2 separate regions of the Homo sapiens genome follow, and region 2 is linked to region 1. Evidence: fine-mapped expression QTL. A gene starts in region 1. The other region holds a variant in brackets. All regions are shown on one strand. Distances are between the middles of the regions. Region 1 holds the start of RFC1 (replication factor C subunit 1). Region 2 overlaps RFC1 (replication factor C subunit 1).

Evidence for each region. PIP is the estimated chance that this variant, and not a neighbour inherited with it, causes the effect.
Region 2: its variant is fine-mapped to the expression of RFC1 in whole blood (INTERVAL, PIP 0.94).

The regions. Positions count from the first base shown.
Region 1 is chr4:39,361,906-39,370,244 of GRCh38, forward strand. It overlaps RFC1 (replication factor C subunit 1), which reads right to left and starts at 4,457. Exons shown (of 25, transcript NM_002913.5): 1 at 4,334-4,457. The coding sequence starts at 4,336. RefSeq lists an enhancer at 4,379-4,498.
Region 2 is chr4:39,323,104-39,331,442 of GRCh38, forward strand. RFC1 (replication factor C subunit 1) reads right to left here. Exons shown (of 25, transcript NM_002913.5): 5 at 4,421-4,653; 6 at 3,460-3,537; 7 at 237-314. Among named protein-coding and RNA genes, the nearest start is that of RFC1, 39 kb to the right of the region's middle. The variant T/G (reference allele first, on the strand shown) is at 3,617.

The sequences.
Region 1 (8,339 bases):
GCGGGCGCCTGTAGTCCCAGCTACTCGGGAGGCTGAGGCCGGAGAATGGGGTGAACCCGGGAGGCGGAGCTTGCAGTGAGCCAAGATGGTGCCACTGCACCCCAGCATGGGCAACAGAGCGAGACTGTCTCAAAAAAAAAGAAATCAGTTCCATTAAAAAAATCACCAAAAAGAATAAAATACTTACGAATATATTTAACAAATGAAGTGTAAAACTCACACTGTGAAAAACTACAAAATACTATTTAAACAAACTGAAGACCTAAACAAATGAAGGCATCCCACATTCATGGATCGGAAGATGTAATATTGTTAAGATGGCAATATTCCCTAAATTGACCTACAGATTCAATAAATTCCCTATCAAAATTCCATGTGGCATCTTTGCTGATTCTAAAATTCATATAGAAATTCAAGGAAATGGAATAGCCAAGACAATCTTGAAAAAGAACAAAGGTGGAGGACATACTTCCTGACTTCAAAAATTATGACAAAGCCACGGTAACACAGTGTGTTGCTGGCATTTAGATAGATATATAGATCAATGGAACAGAACTGGGAGTTTAGAAATCAACTCTCGCATTTACAGTCAACTGATTTTTGACAAGGGTGCCAAGATAATTCAATGGAGAAAGAAGAGTCTTTTCAAAAAATGGTTCTGGGACAACTAGATGTCCACATATAAAAGAATAAAATTGGACCTCTATACTTCACACCCTATATAAAAATTAACTCAGAAATGGATAAAAGTCCTAAATGTAAGAGCTAAAACTACAAAGCTCTTAAGCATAAATCTTCATGACCTTGGATTAGCAAGAGAAACTTAAATGATGAAAAAAAGACAGACATGCAAGGATGTGGAGGAAGACTATTTCAAAGAAAGAAAATAGCAACAAAAGCCCGGAGAGAAACAGAACCAACCTAACACACTCAAAAGACAGAGAGAGAAAATCAGAGAGGTAGGTAGGGGCCTTAGAGGCCAAGTTCAGGTACATATGCATGGCAAAAGCATATTATTTGGCAAAAGCTATATTATAATAAAGTCGAGCACTGCTCCAGGGAGAGCATTCCACATAGTAAACCATGATGTGAAAGTTGCCTGCCTGTAGGAGTGGAGCAATGAAACAGTTCAGACCACAATTTATTTAAACTGACCTCACGGCTCTTCAAACAGCTGTTCCTTAAGTCTCATGTGTGTTTAATTCAATCTTATGCATATTTTCAATAATTATACCAACCAATTAATTATATATGCTGACTTCTTAAAAATGGCATCTCTCAGGTTTTATTCACGTTTTGTGCAAACAATTAAATCTCAGTGAAATTCAAATTGTCTACATGGCTTCTTTATTTCTTTTATTTTTAATTTTCTTTCTATTTATTTACGTGGTTCAAATTTCGAAAGGGTAAAAAGTCCCCCTCTTATCCTGCCTCTCAGACACATATTTCCCATCTCTGGAGGCAACAAATGTTATCAGTTGGTTCCTTCTGTATCTTTCCAGAGAAATTTTATATTTTGGCAATTGTTTCATATCAGAGTATAAAGTTTTCTCATTTTTATAAAGGTTGCACAGTATTCCATTGTGTGAATACACGTACTTTATTTCTTTATTGATAACTTTTAATTGGAATTTTTGTTTTCAATGCAGCTCCCAGGGCAAGAGCTGTCTATGGATGGGCTTCAGAAGATAAGTGAATAGGCCAGGCACAGTGGTTCATGCCTGTAATCCCGGCACTTTAAGAGGCTGAGGCAGGTGGATCAACTTGAGGCCAGGAGTTCAAGACCAGCCTGGCCAACATGGTGAAACTTCATCTCTACTAAAAATAAAAAAATAAAATAGCTGGACATGGTGGCACACACCTGTATTCCCAGCTACCAGGCAGGCTGAGGCACAAGAATCGCTTAAACCTGGTAGGCAGAGGTTGCAGTGAGCCAAGACTGCACACTGCACTCCAGCCTGGGCAAAACAGCAAGACTCTCAAAAAAAAAAAAAAAAGAAGAAGAAGAAGAAGATGATAAGTGAACAGGCCAGGCACAGTGGCTCATGCCTGTAATCTCAATGCTTTGGGAGGCCAGGGTGGAAGGATCGCTTGTACCCCGGAATTAGAGATGGCAGTGAGCTATCATCACACCACTGCACTCCAGCCTGGGCAACAGAGCAAGACCTTGCCTTTAAAAAAAAAAAAAAAAAAAAAAGAAGAAGAAGATAGGTCAATCCCTTAAAATGGTGTGTATATGCCCATATGCATTTCTCTGGGCAGAAAATTTGCATATCATTCACTGTATTTATCAAAGGAAACTGTAACTGAAACAAAGATTGAGAACTACTGTCCTTCATACCCAACGACACAGTCTGAGGGAAAAAAAAAAAAAAGAACTACTGTCTTATAACTTTGCACAAGTGTTCAATAAACATTTGTTGAATCAATTTTAGTCTAGGGTTTTGCTAATTGTTGCACTAGAGACTGGAGGGCTAAATTAAATATCAGTATAATACAAAATTCTTATCTACCTCATAGGATGTTTACCCACTAACAACAAAACTGACCAATTTGACCTATTTCTTTTCTGAGAAGAGGTCTATTTTTTATCTGCACCATGAACAGGAGTACTAAAGAAAGAAAAGAACCAAAAGTAAAAGCACCTGAATGATCAAAAGTTGACCACACAAGCTATGTTCACCATAAATGACAGAGGAATCTACCATGCCTCTTAAAATCTATGTAACTTTCCATAGAGTCCTTTCTGAGAAAATAGATCACTGGTAGCTGTGTAGTTGCCTAACATGCCAGGCACCAGAACCAGAACGGAAGCTTTACCTATACATCTTGCTTAATCCCCAAAACAATCACTATGGCAGCTATTATTTTCCCCTCTTTTACAGATAAGGAAACAGAGGCTTAAAGAGATTAAACTTAAGCTATTTACTTGCCCAAGACCACGTAACTATTAAACTAGACTATACTAACATAGTAATATAACTATAAATTAATATATAAACCATTAAACTAAAATATTACCACGTTCTTCATCTTCAAGACTCCAAGTCTCAAGCTTCCAAAATACCACAGTGCTTTGGCCTCCAAAATGTAATGATGATCATTATAGGGAAGTAGTATAACATGGTGGTCAGAAACACCAAGATTCTAATTCTAGTTCAACCACCTACTAGTTATATGATACACTGTTTAAATTCCAAAAAGGTGCTTGCACCATCTGTAAAACTGCATCGATGTGGGTTGAAATGAAAAAAAAAAAAAAAAAAAAAAACCATGGAAAACCAACAGTTCACATATTGACCTAAAGAAGATGCTTGGTACAAGGTAGCTACTATCATTACTGTTGCCCTTTTTTGAGAAGAAACACAAAGGCCTGCAACGTTTCCCAGTGTGGCATAAAATTTTCACCGCCCCCCCCCAGAATGTTGTCACTGTGACACGTTGACCAATGATTGAAAAAAATTATATCGGATTGTTAAGTATCTTCTAGCTTAATGAACATTTTAAATGGTCCTTTAAAAATATTTCAAACACAGAGCCATATCCATTGCCATACCATCAGGAATGTCTGCTTTGCTGGCTGCATAATCATTTCACTTTCAATTTGTTTGAACATTTTATCCAGAATTATGCAGTGAGGCTTGGGTTTTTTTCAGATTTTAAACATCAGGTGGTAAGAGGATGACAGCTGTCAAATGTCTTGCATCTGTTTCTATTCGCTGTACTTCTTTTTCCTAGTAAGCCATGTTATCCTTTTGACTCCTATGAACTCATCTAAACAAAATAAAATATCCTCTCCATGCCCTCGGTCTCAACACCGCTCAGGTGATCGTTAATGACGAGCGGAGATGAGACGAGCTGAGCTGTTAATGATAAAAGTTTAAGGCCCTACACAACATATTCCCTAAGAAAGAAAAGTTTGTTACATTCTTCTCCCTCGTGACCCAAAGCTTGAAATCCACGCTTTAGGCAGTACTCAAACTGAGGTTCGGGCAACGCCGAACAAGAAAATAACTTTACCAATGCGTCCCAAAACCACCATCCTTCCTCTCTTCCTTTCTCCCTTCCCCCAAGAGTGGGGGGCGGGGGGAAAGTGCAAGTACACGTAGCAACAAAATCCCTGCGCGCTGGCTGCCGCCCAGAGCCAGAGCCCGCGATGCAATGAAAGTTTTGCGTCCAGTGCCCGGTGTGCGGCCCCTTCTCTGCCTTTGCTAGCCTCCGGAACCACCCACCGCCATCCTCCCCCACCCTGCATACCAGGAGTGCCCGGTCCACACCAGGCCTGCAAAGCCCCCCCAGACCCCGAGCCGCACGGCCTCCCCCAGCGGCTCACCATCGCAGCCCCAGGATGAAGGCGCTGGCTGGCTGGCGGGTGGGCCGGTTGAGGAATCTGTTATCGAGGCTCAGGATCCATTCGCGCCAACAACTTCTCCCGCGAAGTGCAAGAAGGCGAAGACAGTGGCGCGCGGTGATGACGTCAGGAGGCGCGAGCTTTGCTTCCGTCCCGCCCAGAGGCGGGAGGTGCGACGCCTGCCCAGGTGCTGCCCCGAGGGCAGGCGGGCCGCTGACATCGAGAGGAACCACGGTGCTTTGGTGTGAGCTCGGTTTTTGGCGGGGGCGCTAAAGTAGGGGGATCCGATATTGGTTTCCTTGGCAGGCGGGGTACCCAAGTACCTCCCGGTTACACGTCTGGACAATGCACTTCCCTATAGTAACTTTGAAAAGTTTTTACTACCAACTTTAGTAAGATAAATGTTTTAGCTGTGCGTTTTACATATTATGTATAAATATCTATTCTGTAATAAGGTTTCATCAAGAGGCCGGACGCGGTGGCTCACCCCTCTAATCCCAGCACTTTGGGAGGCCGAGGCGGGTGGGTCACCTGAGGTCAGGAGTTCGAGACCACCTGACCAATGTGGTGAAACCCCGTCTCTACTAAAAATACAAAAATTAGCCAGGGGGTGGTGACGTGTGCCTGTAGTCCCAGCTACTCGGGAGACTGAGACAGGAGAATTGCTTGAACCCAGGAGGCAGTGGTGCAGTGAGCCGAGATCGAGCTACTGCCCTTTAGCCTGGGCGACAGAGCGAAACTCCGCCTCAAAAAAAAGAAAAGATACCGAAAGCTTTGGGGTAAACCAGTTGTATATGAATAGATTAGCAATTGAATCACGGAATACAATGAAACATTTGCGTACGATTTCAAGAGAAAGATTAGACCATAAAGAGTTCAATGGAGAAAGCAGTATCTCCAGCTTTGGCTCTAGCTACACTTTTGAAATTCTCACCCATCCACCCCCTGTTGGGTCTTGCGCTTTATGACACCAACATTTCTATGGCGAAAGATAGAACAGCCTGGAATACAACAGAGGCTGAGCATTGACAGCTTGTATTTATTAAACGCCTATTGTTGTACGTGCAGCTCTGGACTAGCCTAGCTCATTTTATCCCCATGATGACACTGACTACTCTTATCCCGAATTTACAGACAGACTGTTACTTATTAACAGGGCCTCACTGCACTGTTCCCTCTGAAGCCAGGATGCTAGGTCTCCAGCCCCACCACCTGCTATTTATGTGACCAAGGGCAAGTTACTGTGCCTCGGTTTTGTCTTAGCAGACATATCACACAAATTTTTGCCCATAATTTTAGAGGACCTACACCAATTTATAATGTTCATTGTGTTATAAATCAATAAATGAGTAAATAAGACATAAAAAGTTGTACGTGTCTTTTATATTACATTCCTCTTAACTTTTGCTTTTTTTTTTTTTTGGCATTTGAAGCCTTCCTTGAGTTTAAATGAGACTTAAGTCAGGAGACTGTAACTTCTTTGTGAGATTGTTTTCTTTAGGAATATTTATTTACATGAAAATACTCTATCTCAGAAATATACCAGATCTAAAATGACTGCATATGCTTTGAAACTCCTCCCTTGAACCTGGACTGGCCTATGACTGATTTGATCAAAGAATACAATGGAAGTGATACTATGCCAACTCCAGACCTAAGCTTTAAGAAGACTGGCAGCTCCTGTCTTGCTCTCTTGGAGCACCATGTAAAGCCAGGGAGGTGGTCATCTGAGACCAGCCTTATAGCCATCTCCACCAGGCACCATGCATGTAAATGAAGCCATCTCAGATCCCATCCAGCAACTGATGGAATTTCACTAGCTTTGTTGACCCCATTCAACACCTGGGAGAGCAGAAAAATCACTCAGTCAAGGCCTGTCCAAATTTCCTGACCCACAGTAGCGTGAACATAATTAAATGATTGCTCTGTTAAGGTAATAAGTATTGGAGTGGTTTCTTATAAAGGAATAGATATCCAGAATGGAAATATTTTTGAAGACCCAAAATAGGACTGAGCATGGTGGCACATGCCTATAATCCCAGCACTTTGAGAGGCCTTGTCTCAGGAAAAAAAAACAAAAACAAAAAAAAAGTGAAACCAATCAGAAAAGATTTCCCTGCTGATCCATGCCTTTTTGTTAGCAGAATAATGGCATGGAAAGAAATTCACTCCTTGAAAACAGTATGGATATAAGCTTTTGCCTATCACAGCAAGTTTACATTTATGGATGCCTGCTGCATTAGCACATGCCGGCACTGTTATTCCATCCTTCCCATCCTTAATTCCTTTATGGGCTAGCTCATCAGCCATAGTTAGTATCTATCTGGGGCAAATAACACCAAAACAGTGATGTTTCAGCAATCTTGTAGACTTGGTCTAGTGTCAGATTTTCATGAGTGAAAATATTGGCAAATTCATCAACACATTTCTCCACTGCTTTGTGATCAGCAGATGCTTTATTGCCACAGATTTTTTAAAAATGTAACACCCTGTCTTTTCTTAAATTTATGCAACCAGCCAGTTGAATATGCACAATTCCCTTCAATTTTTAGTTCATTGCAATAGATCTTTGTTTCATGATCAGCATACCATCACGTGGCATGTGTTCACTATGATGCTTATGAATTTATGCTTTCAATACATGATTGAGATTTTCTTTTTTAGCTTTACGTAGTTTTTTTTGGGGGGGGGGTTGTTTTGTTTTTTGTTTTTGAGACGGAGTCTTGCTCTGTCACCCAGGCTGGAGTGCAGTGGCGCCATCTCGGCTCACTGCAACCTCCGCCTCCCAGGTTCAAGCGATTCTTCTGCCTCAGCCTCCTGAGTAGCTGAGATTACAGTTGTGCACCACCACATTTGGCTATTTTTTGTATTCTTAGTAGAGACGGGGTTTCACCATCTTGGTGAGGCTGGTCTCGAACTCCTGACCTCGTGATCTACCCATCTCGGCCTCCCAAAGTGCTGGGAGGGTTTTTTTGGTTTTGTTTTTTTACTTTTCATTAACTTCTGTTCATCACTTTCAGCATAAACCTTCAACAGTTTTTCCTTCTGTTTCTTCAAATCATATATGGTGGTCATTCCAATCCCATACTCTTTTGTAAGATTTTCACACTTATACTGCTGTCCAACTTCTCTAAGGTTGACTTTCTGTGCCACAGATAAACATAAATGCTTCCTCTTTTTCTTATCACTGTTACCCAAAGGGGTATCTGCAGGCCTTTTCGACATTTTCAGCAATATCTGTATACCACAAAGCAGAGAATAATCAAAAAACCGCAGAAGGCCAGGCACAGTGGCTCATGCCTGTAATCCCAACACTTTGGGAGGACAAGGAAGGAGTATTGCTTGAGACCAGGAGTTCGAGGCCAGGAGTTCAAGACCAGCCTGGGCGACAGAGCAAGATGCTGTCCCAAAAACAAAACAAAACAAAAACCACTGTAAACAATCTGAATGTTAACTGTAAAGAAAATGGATAAATTGAAATATATTCATACAACAATAAAAATCAATGAAATACAGATCATACATCATACAACACTACAGATCAGTCTTGTATACTTTTTTTTTTTTTTTTTTTTGAGATGGAGGCTTGCTCTGTCACCCAGGCTGGGATACATTGGCGAAATCTCAGCTCACTGCAACCTCTGCCTGCCAGGTTCAAGCAATTCTCCTGCTTCAGCCTTCCAAGTAGCTGGGATTACAGGCATCCACCACCATGCCTGGCTAATTTTTGTACTTTTAGTAAAGACAGGGTTTCATCATGTTGGTCAAGCTGGTCTCTAACTCCTGACCTCAAATGATCCACCCACCTCGGCCTCCCAAAGTGGTAGGATTACAGGTGTGAGCCACTGCACCTGGCCCAGTCTTATATACTGATATGGTTTGGCTCTGTGTCCCCACCCAAAACTCATCTTCTAGCTCCCATAATTCCCATTGTTGTGGGAGGGACCCAGTGGGATAGGAGATAATTGAATCATGATGGTGCATCTTT
Region 2 (8,339 bases), 39 kb before region 1:
AGGAAAAGATATAATTCTTTGTTTTGTGATAAAAGGTTCTGGTTTGTTTTGATGCCGTCACCCTTCTTTTAAGAAGAATAAGTTTCTCAATGAGCTTCCCCAAAAACATTTTTATAAAATAATTTAATTTCTTTCTGGAAAAGTTATTCATGTTTTGGCTAGAGCCTAGAACACGCAAGTATGAACACTGATCTGTACTGTATATTCAGAACGCAAATAGCCCAACATTATGCCACCTTTTTGGTCTTGGGTTCTTCATCCAACATGGCTAATGTTCTGGCAAACTCTTCATCTTCATGCAACTGCCTCTCCAGCTGTAAAATGTGTCAGCAAAGTGAGTTGAGTTGCTCTTTTTCTTTTCGTAAATAGAATTTTTAAATGTCTGATTCATATATTTAGAAGAAACTAGAAAAACATTTTCCAGAAAATAATTATGACATTTTCCCACTCAACATTAATAGTGAAGTATCACAGGTTTGTTTCACTAAGCTGAATCAGATTTTGGAACATACAGTTCTGGTTTTGCAGGGATGACAGATAAAGTGAGCATATTTTTAAAGTCATATTTCTTACTTATAAAACATGAGGTCTGTACTTTTCTCTTAATGGTTCTTATGCAACACAGCTTTCTTATTTCTATTTATTATCTAAAAAGACCTCTGAAAGGAATCTCAACCTAATAGGAAAACACAATCATCTGGGGAGTACAAAAATAGTGAATCTAAGAATTTAAAAAAATTATACAGTATTTTTTTGGCACATATAGTAAGCTATATACAAATGTAAAATCACTTTTACTATCAAACTCCTATTTTCAATTACTAATTCAAATGCATCTGTTCTCACTTTTGAAAATTTAAGTCATCATGTCAGGAGTTCTACTAACATGCTAATGTAACACAGAGACATTCTAGTTATCTCAGTTATTTCAAAATACTTTCACATTCAGCAAAATGGAGCTCTTCCAAAAGAGAATATATAGCAGTGGAGTATCTTTCTCATTATAAACCAAATGGCTGTATGCTCCCTGGTAAAATGGCCTTACGTGATATTCAATAAAAAACACCCTACATTATTCAAACAAAGAAAAGGACTTCAAAATCCACTCAATCTTTTAAAAGTGAAGTGAAAAAAAAGGGAGGAAAAACTCTTACAGGGATAATTAGTAAAGACATCTTCAGTTACTGACACCTAGAAGTCCTTAATCAGATTAATAAATTACCCAAACAAGATTCTGAAAGAATGTGATAAAAATGGAAAAATAGAGGATTGTGATACAAAGTACCACACCTGGTTTGGAAAGGATTAGGTAACCCTCTAGTATTTGGATCAGGAGAAGTCAGGTTCCTAAAAATTACTTCCTAGTTTGACCTAGGCTACTTGTGCTACCTTGAGTCATGTGGATACTCGCTTGTAGTTTATGTAATTCAGTGTGATCAAATAAGATAGAAAAACATTTTGAAAACACAAACTAAACTGCCAAAGTAATAAAATGTGAACAATCACAATATTGTTCTCTCACAATAATACTTATCAAGAGCCCATTGTATGCCAGACACTAAGATAAGCACTGATGTAACAATGGTTGAGTGAGACATAAATGGTTGAGACAAATGGTTGAGTGAGAGTCCTGGTGAGGGGACCTTAGAGCCTATACTTGCCATTCTAATTAAATAGCAAGTATAATAAATGATAATAGTAGCTATGACAGAGTGTGACAGAGTATATCGGAGGGGTTTCTAATATAGTTGAGGTAGTCTGGGAAAGTGACACTTAAGCTAAGCAAGAGGAAGGGAGTTCTAACAGCCGGCAGCTAAGCCTGGAACCTCTGACAGAGATGAGCGCTCCTCCCTGAAATACTTTCTTTGGCTTCTGTAAGATATCAACCTCTCCTGATGTTCCTACTTCACTAGCCACTCTCTCCTCTCCTTTGCTGGATCATCCTCCTTTTCCTGACCTCTAACAGTGGCCCAGGGCTCAATCCTGAGACCTTTCTTTCTTTTCTATTTGCATTATCTCCCCATGATCTCATCCAGTTACACAGGTTTAAATATTACTCAACTGGTAATGATTTCCAAATGTCCATCTTCAGTTTAGACTTCTCCCCTGAGTTCCTGACTCTTCTACCCAACCACCTACTCTGCCTTTCCATTTGGAAGTCTATTAGACATCTCAAACTTAACTTGTCCAAAAGATCTCTCTGTACCAAACCTGTTCTGCTTCCTGTGTTCCAGCCTTAGTAAATCGTATCACCATTCACCCAGTTGTTAAGGCCATAACTGAATATTATTTTCCGAGAGACAAGGTATTGCTCTGTCACCCAGGCTGGAGTGCAGTGGCACAATCACAGCTCATTGCAGCCTGAACCTCCCAGGCTCAAGCAATCCTCCCACCTCTGCCTCCCAAGTATCTGGGACCACAGGTGTGCACCACCATGCCCAGTTGATTTTTGTATTTTTGGTAGAGATGGGATTTCCCTATGTTACCCAGACTGGTCTCAAACTCCCAGGCACAAGTGATCCTCTCACCTCGGCCTCCCAAAGTGCTGGGATTACAGGCATGAGCCACCACACCCAGCCTCATCTGTGAATCTTCTTCCCTCACACCTTACATCCAATCTGTCAAAAAGAACTTGCATGTTTCAAGGCACATTCAGATTATGCCCACTTCTCACTGCCTTTTCCTATTACAAGCTGACATCTCTCACCTACCATTCAGTCTGCAAACTGATCTGCTTTTGATCTTGCCCCCACCATGAACTATTAACATCATCGAAGCCAAAGTAATTTTCTTTTAAGATCCACCAAGTCATGTCACTTTTCTATTCAAAACTCCAATGGGGCTGGGTGTGGTGGCTCACACCTGTAATCCCAACAATTTGGGAGGCCAAGGTCAAGACCAGCCTGGCCAACATGGTGAAACTCCGTCTCTACTAAAAATACATAAATTAGCCAGGCGTAGTGGTGGGCGCCTGTAGTCTCAGTTACTGGGGCAGGTGAGGCAGGAGAATCACTTGATTCCCAGGAGGTGGAGGTTGCAATTAGCCAGATTATGCCACTGCACTCCAGCCTGGGCAACAAAGCGAGACTCTGTCTCAAAAAATAAAAAATAAAAACTCCAATGGTTTCCCATTTGGAAGAAACTAAATTCCAAAGTCCTTATAATTAACATCCTTTTTGTAGGTATCAAAGACCTATCATGACCTACAGGATTTGCTGCTAGCCATTTCTTCAAAATCATCTCACAGCACTTGATCAATCTTCTCTAAAAATAAATCTTTCAGTAAATAATTCTCCCCTGGTCTCATCATTTATCTTGTATAGAAATTTAGATTTTCATTTATTAGATTTTAACTTATTTTACATGTAACTTCCAATGAGGTTCAATTCAAAACCTGGCTGGACTAAATAGCTAGTCAGAATATCAAGTTACTAATGATTCTAAGCAAAATGCCAATACCTCCGCATCTTCATCAAGCTGTAATTGCTTGGCGATGGCTTCATCATTTAATCCAGACTCATCTGTATTTTGTGAAAGCTATATTTCAAAGAAAATCAAGCAAAATCAGCATAAACCTTAAGTTAAAAATAAGGCACTTTTTCTTGACTGTTGCTGA[T/G]TAAATACACCAGTGAGAGATAAGTGTATCTATCAGTAACAGCTGCAATGTACACCAGCCAGAAAGTCAAATTTATGGCTACTCCCTGACCATATCCAATCCCTAATAAATATCCTATAGACAGACCTGTCTCACTTAGTTCTATTGATATGTTCAAGAGAAGTACCAAAAATAAAAATAAAAAAACCCAATCCTGTAGATTAATGTCTTGGCTTGACAAGTAGCCCAGAACATTGGCAAACCAATATGTGAGAATGATTACATTGTTCTATGGAGGAAGTGATAGAATCAACAAACACACACTATGGGGCAGGCTTTCTTTAACTCAGGGGACTACTTTCACCATAATTTATCTGGTATGTCTGTTTCCTAAATGGCCAGAAACAGATGAATCCAATATCTGCCAAAGTAGAGAAGGTCACAAGTGTAGCATAGGTATGCTCTATTTATAAGGAATCTATTTATTATCTCATTTGGAAACAAATTTATCGCTAATATTGACTGGTTGAGGTCAATAGTAAAATGAGTTTCCATTCTGAGAACTCAATTTAAATTCGAATAATTATCATTTTTTCTTATGGCTTAAATGATCTTTTCCCGCTTTCAAGAATTAAAAAATTAAATATGTAACATTCCAACTTCCTCATCCTTTAAAATGAGGGCAATACATTTTATCCATAATCATAGGAAAATTATTTTAATTATTAAAACATGTTGCCTATTTACTACATCCTAGTTTCTCCTGTTAATATTAGTGAATGGGTATAAATCCTGAGCATACTTGCTTATATGTAGAACACTTACCTCTTTTCTTTTGCTTGCCACCATCTTCTTATTAGATCTTTGGACACTTCCAGTTCCAAAATAATCAAGTACTGATGTGGGTGTAAGTTTTATTGGTGATAAAGGCTTATTCTTGGTCTTAGTGTTTTCTTCATTCTTTTTCATGTTTGATGTTCCAAGATGACTATTTGTAGATCTTCCATTCTCTTTTGATTTAGAGGCCGCCTTCTTACACATAAAGTCATCTTCTTCATCTTAAATGAAATGTAACCAAATATTTTTTATAAAACATCAATTCGGTTATACAAAGAAAACACTTCTACCAACTTTATAAAAAGTATACAAGAGGCTAGACATGGTGGCTCATGCTTGTAATCCCAGCACTTTTGGAGACCAAGATAGGAGAATCATTTGCGCTCAGGAGTTCGAGACCAGTCTGGGCAACATCATGAAACTCCTTCTCTTCAAAAAAATTAACAAAAAATTAGCCAGGCATGGTGGTACACACCTGTAGTCCCAGCTACTAGGGAGGCTGAGGCAAGAGGATATAAACCCAGGAGGTTGAGGCTGCAGTTAGCTGTGATTGCACCACTGCACTCCAGTCTGAACAACAAAGACCCTGTCTCAAAAACAAAATAAACATCCAAGAACTTAGAGATGCTAATAACTTTTTCCCCCTATCTCCAAAATTCAACCATCATCCCCACATTTACCAGTGCCAGGCCTGTAATACGCTATATCCCCCAGTTACTACCAAGAGTACACAAATATTTACTGAGCACTCATTATGTACCAGGAACTTAAGATACAGCAGTGAATAAAAAAGACAAAATCCCTGCCCTCATGGAACTTAAAGTCTAGAAGAGGAAACAGATATACAAATAAACAAATATACACTGTCAAGTTAAATGTTCTATGAATAAAAAGTAAAACAGGGTGAAAGAATTAAAGAGTGATGAAGGGTACTCTTTGAGATAAGGTAGTGAGGGAATGCCTCTTTGATAAACAACATTTTAACGGAGGCCTGAAATGAAGATACCTCAGGCAAGAATATCTGGGCAATTAAAACTACAAATGGAAAAGCCGAGACGGAAGTGTGCCTGGAGTTCAATGTGGCTGCAGCACAATGCGGAGGCGTGCCAGAAGAGTTCGGGTGAAAGAGGTAGGGGCCAAATCCTGGAGGACTTTCTAGGCAATAGGAATAATTTTAGTCTTTATTATAGAACGGGAATCCACTGGAGAATTCTGAGAATAGTTTGTGACCCAACTTAAGGCCTGTCATTTGGAAAACACACTGCAGAGCGGGGAAAGTGAATGCAGGGAGACCACTTAGAAAGCTACTGCAGTTTCAGATGAGATACGGAAGGCTTGGACTGTGGTGGTATTTGCAGAGGTAGTAAGTTGTCAGGTTCTAGCTATATATTGCAGGTGAACCATCTACTGATATCTAACCATTCATTTAAGACCATAAATTCTTTGTTACATTTTATTTTTCTAAAAAGTTTCCACAAAACATCTGGCTTTAAATGTCTTTTTAAGCATTCATGACAACGTTTAGATAATTAGGAGCTCCAAAAATGTACCTCAAAAGGGCCTCAATAAATTTGTTTGCTTCAGTGACTCACAAAAAAAAAAAAAAAAAAAAAAAAAAGCTTTTCGATTTGGCCTATAAACAAAAGAAATCCAATAAAAATGAAAATCTAAGAGACAAACATGAGGCCGGGCACGGTAGCACACACCTGTCATCCCAGTACTTTGGGAGGCTGAGGCGGAGGATTGCTTGAGCCTGGGAATTCAAGATCAGCCTGGGCAACATAATGAGACTCCATCTCTACCAAAAAAAATTAGCTGGGGAGGCAGGCAGATCACTTCAGGTCAGGAGTTCAAGACCAGCCTGGTCAACATGGTGAAACCCCATCTCTACTAAAATTACAAAACTTAGCCGGGCGTAGCGGTGCGCGCCTGTAGTCCCAGCTACTCCGGAGGCAGAGGCAGAGGGTGCAGTGAGCTGAAATTGTGCCTCTGTACTCCAGCCTGGGAGACAGAGCAAGACTCTGTCTCAAAAAAAAAAAAGAAAAAGAAAAATTAAGCTGGGCATGGTGGTGCAGGCCTGTAGCCCCAGCTACTCAGGAGGCTAAGGCAGTAGGAGGATCGCTTGAGCCCAAGAAATGGAGGCTGCAGTAAGCCTCGATTGTACCACTGCACTCCAACCTGTCTCTAAAAAAAACTTTTTTAATACAATTGAAAATAGGCCAGGTGCAGTGGCTCACACCTGCAATCCCAGCACTCCGGGAGGCCGAGATGGGCGGATCATTTGAGGTCAGGAGTTCAAGACCAGCTTGGACAACATGGTGAGAGCCCGTCTCTACTAAAAACATAAAAATTAGCTGGGCGTGGTGGAGTATGCCTGTAATCCCAGCTATTTGGGCAGCTGAGGCAGGAGAATCACTTGAACTGGGAGGCGGAGGTCACAGTGAGCTGAGATTGCACCACTGCACTCCAGCCTGGGCGACAGAGTGAGACTCCCTCTCAAAAAAAAAATTTTTTTTTAAATAAAAGACAACCATGAAGACTAGGTCTTGGTGGGGATGGGGGACGGTTCACTGTATCAATTTGGTATGCAAAGCCACATATGAGTGGCTCCTATGTCCTCTCAACTGCTCCCTCATTCAACTATGAACATTTGCTAAAGGCCTTACGTCCCAGGCACTGTGTTATCCTTAGGTGGCTGCCATTTCAAACATGAAAGTATCTAATGATATGTAAAAATCAAAAGGATTCAGCCTTACCTTCTAATTATTATATTTATATTAAAATGAAACTATAAATTTTGCAACACTTCACTCTTACAGGTTTCTGATTACTAAATGTAAAAAGTAACCCACTATTTAAAGCAAGCATGTAGTAGAAATCTCTGAGGATGCCAGTGCCCTTCACTACAAGCACATTTTCTCTAATAATTTACAGCTCACCCCTCCCTCCAAGGGCCTCCAAAAACCACAGATATATCCATTAGATGGCTCCACACTCTTGACCACAATCAGCTAGACCAGGAGTGAGCACTTCAGCAAGGTGGGGCCAACTTTATCCTTGATTTGCTCAACCAGTATGTACAAACCAAGGTGCAAAAGGTTTATTTCTACATTCAATGAGATAAGTTAGCAGGCTCCTAATAAATTTCCCCATTTTGCTTACACTAAAGTGTTTGCAACCGAAAGAGTTAAATTAAAACATACTTGTTTCACTTCTCTTCAACTATAGTCAATCTACCGTCAAGCTTTAATTAAAAATTTATCCATAACTCTTTCTAAAGCACATCCAAGGCCTGATACAATTAACAGATTTCAGTTCAACCACGTTACAAAGAGTCAACAGACTAGGTTCAGTCATTCATATATATATATACACACACACACACACATATATATATATTCTCCCTACCTAACTACTGGTTCTTCTCTGCCTCTTTGCCAGACGGGAAAAAGGCTTTGCAAAAGGCTAGGTAACATCACCATTCCATTTATAACAGCCACGTGGATCACCCATAATAGTCCTAGTAACTAACCATTGAGAATATAATCTCAAAGTCCTTTCCTTTTCTCTAAAATAATTACACAATGATCATGGTATTATAGAAACTCAAATTTTTTTAATACTTGACAGCTGACCAGCTATACCCAGTATATGTTAAATTTCTTATCTTATTAAATTTTATAATGTTTATTTGCTTTAAGTTCAACAATTGTACTTCTGGGCAAGAGGGAGTCCCTTAATGGAGAAAGAACAAACTTAAATTGTCTCTGAAATGATGGTGCTCTACTAGTTTCCTACCACCTTAAAAATGCCTAAAATACTAACATTCCATTTCCACTACACTTAGCCGTGCTTATAAGCAGTATGACAGAAAACCCCATAGCTGAGTGGGTGAGATCAACTACTA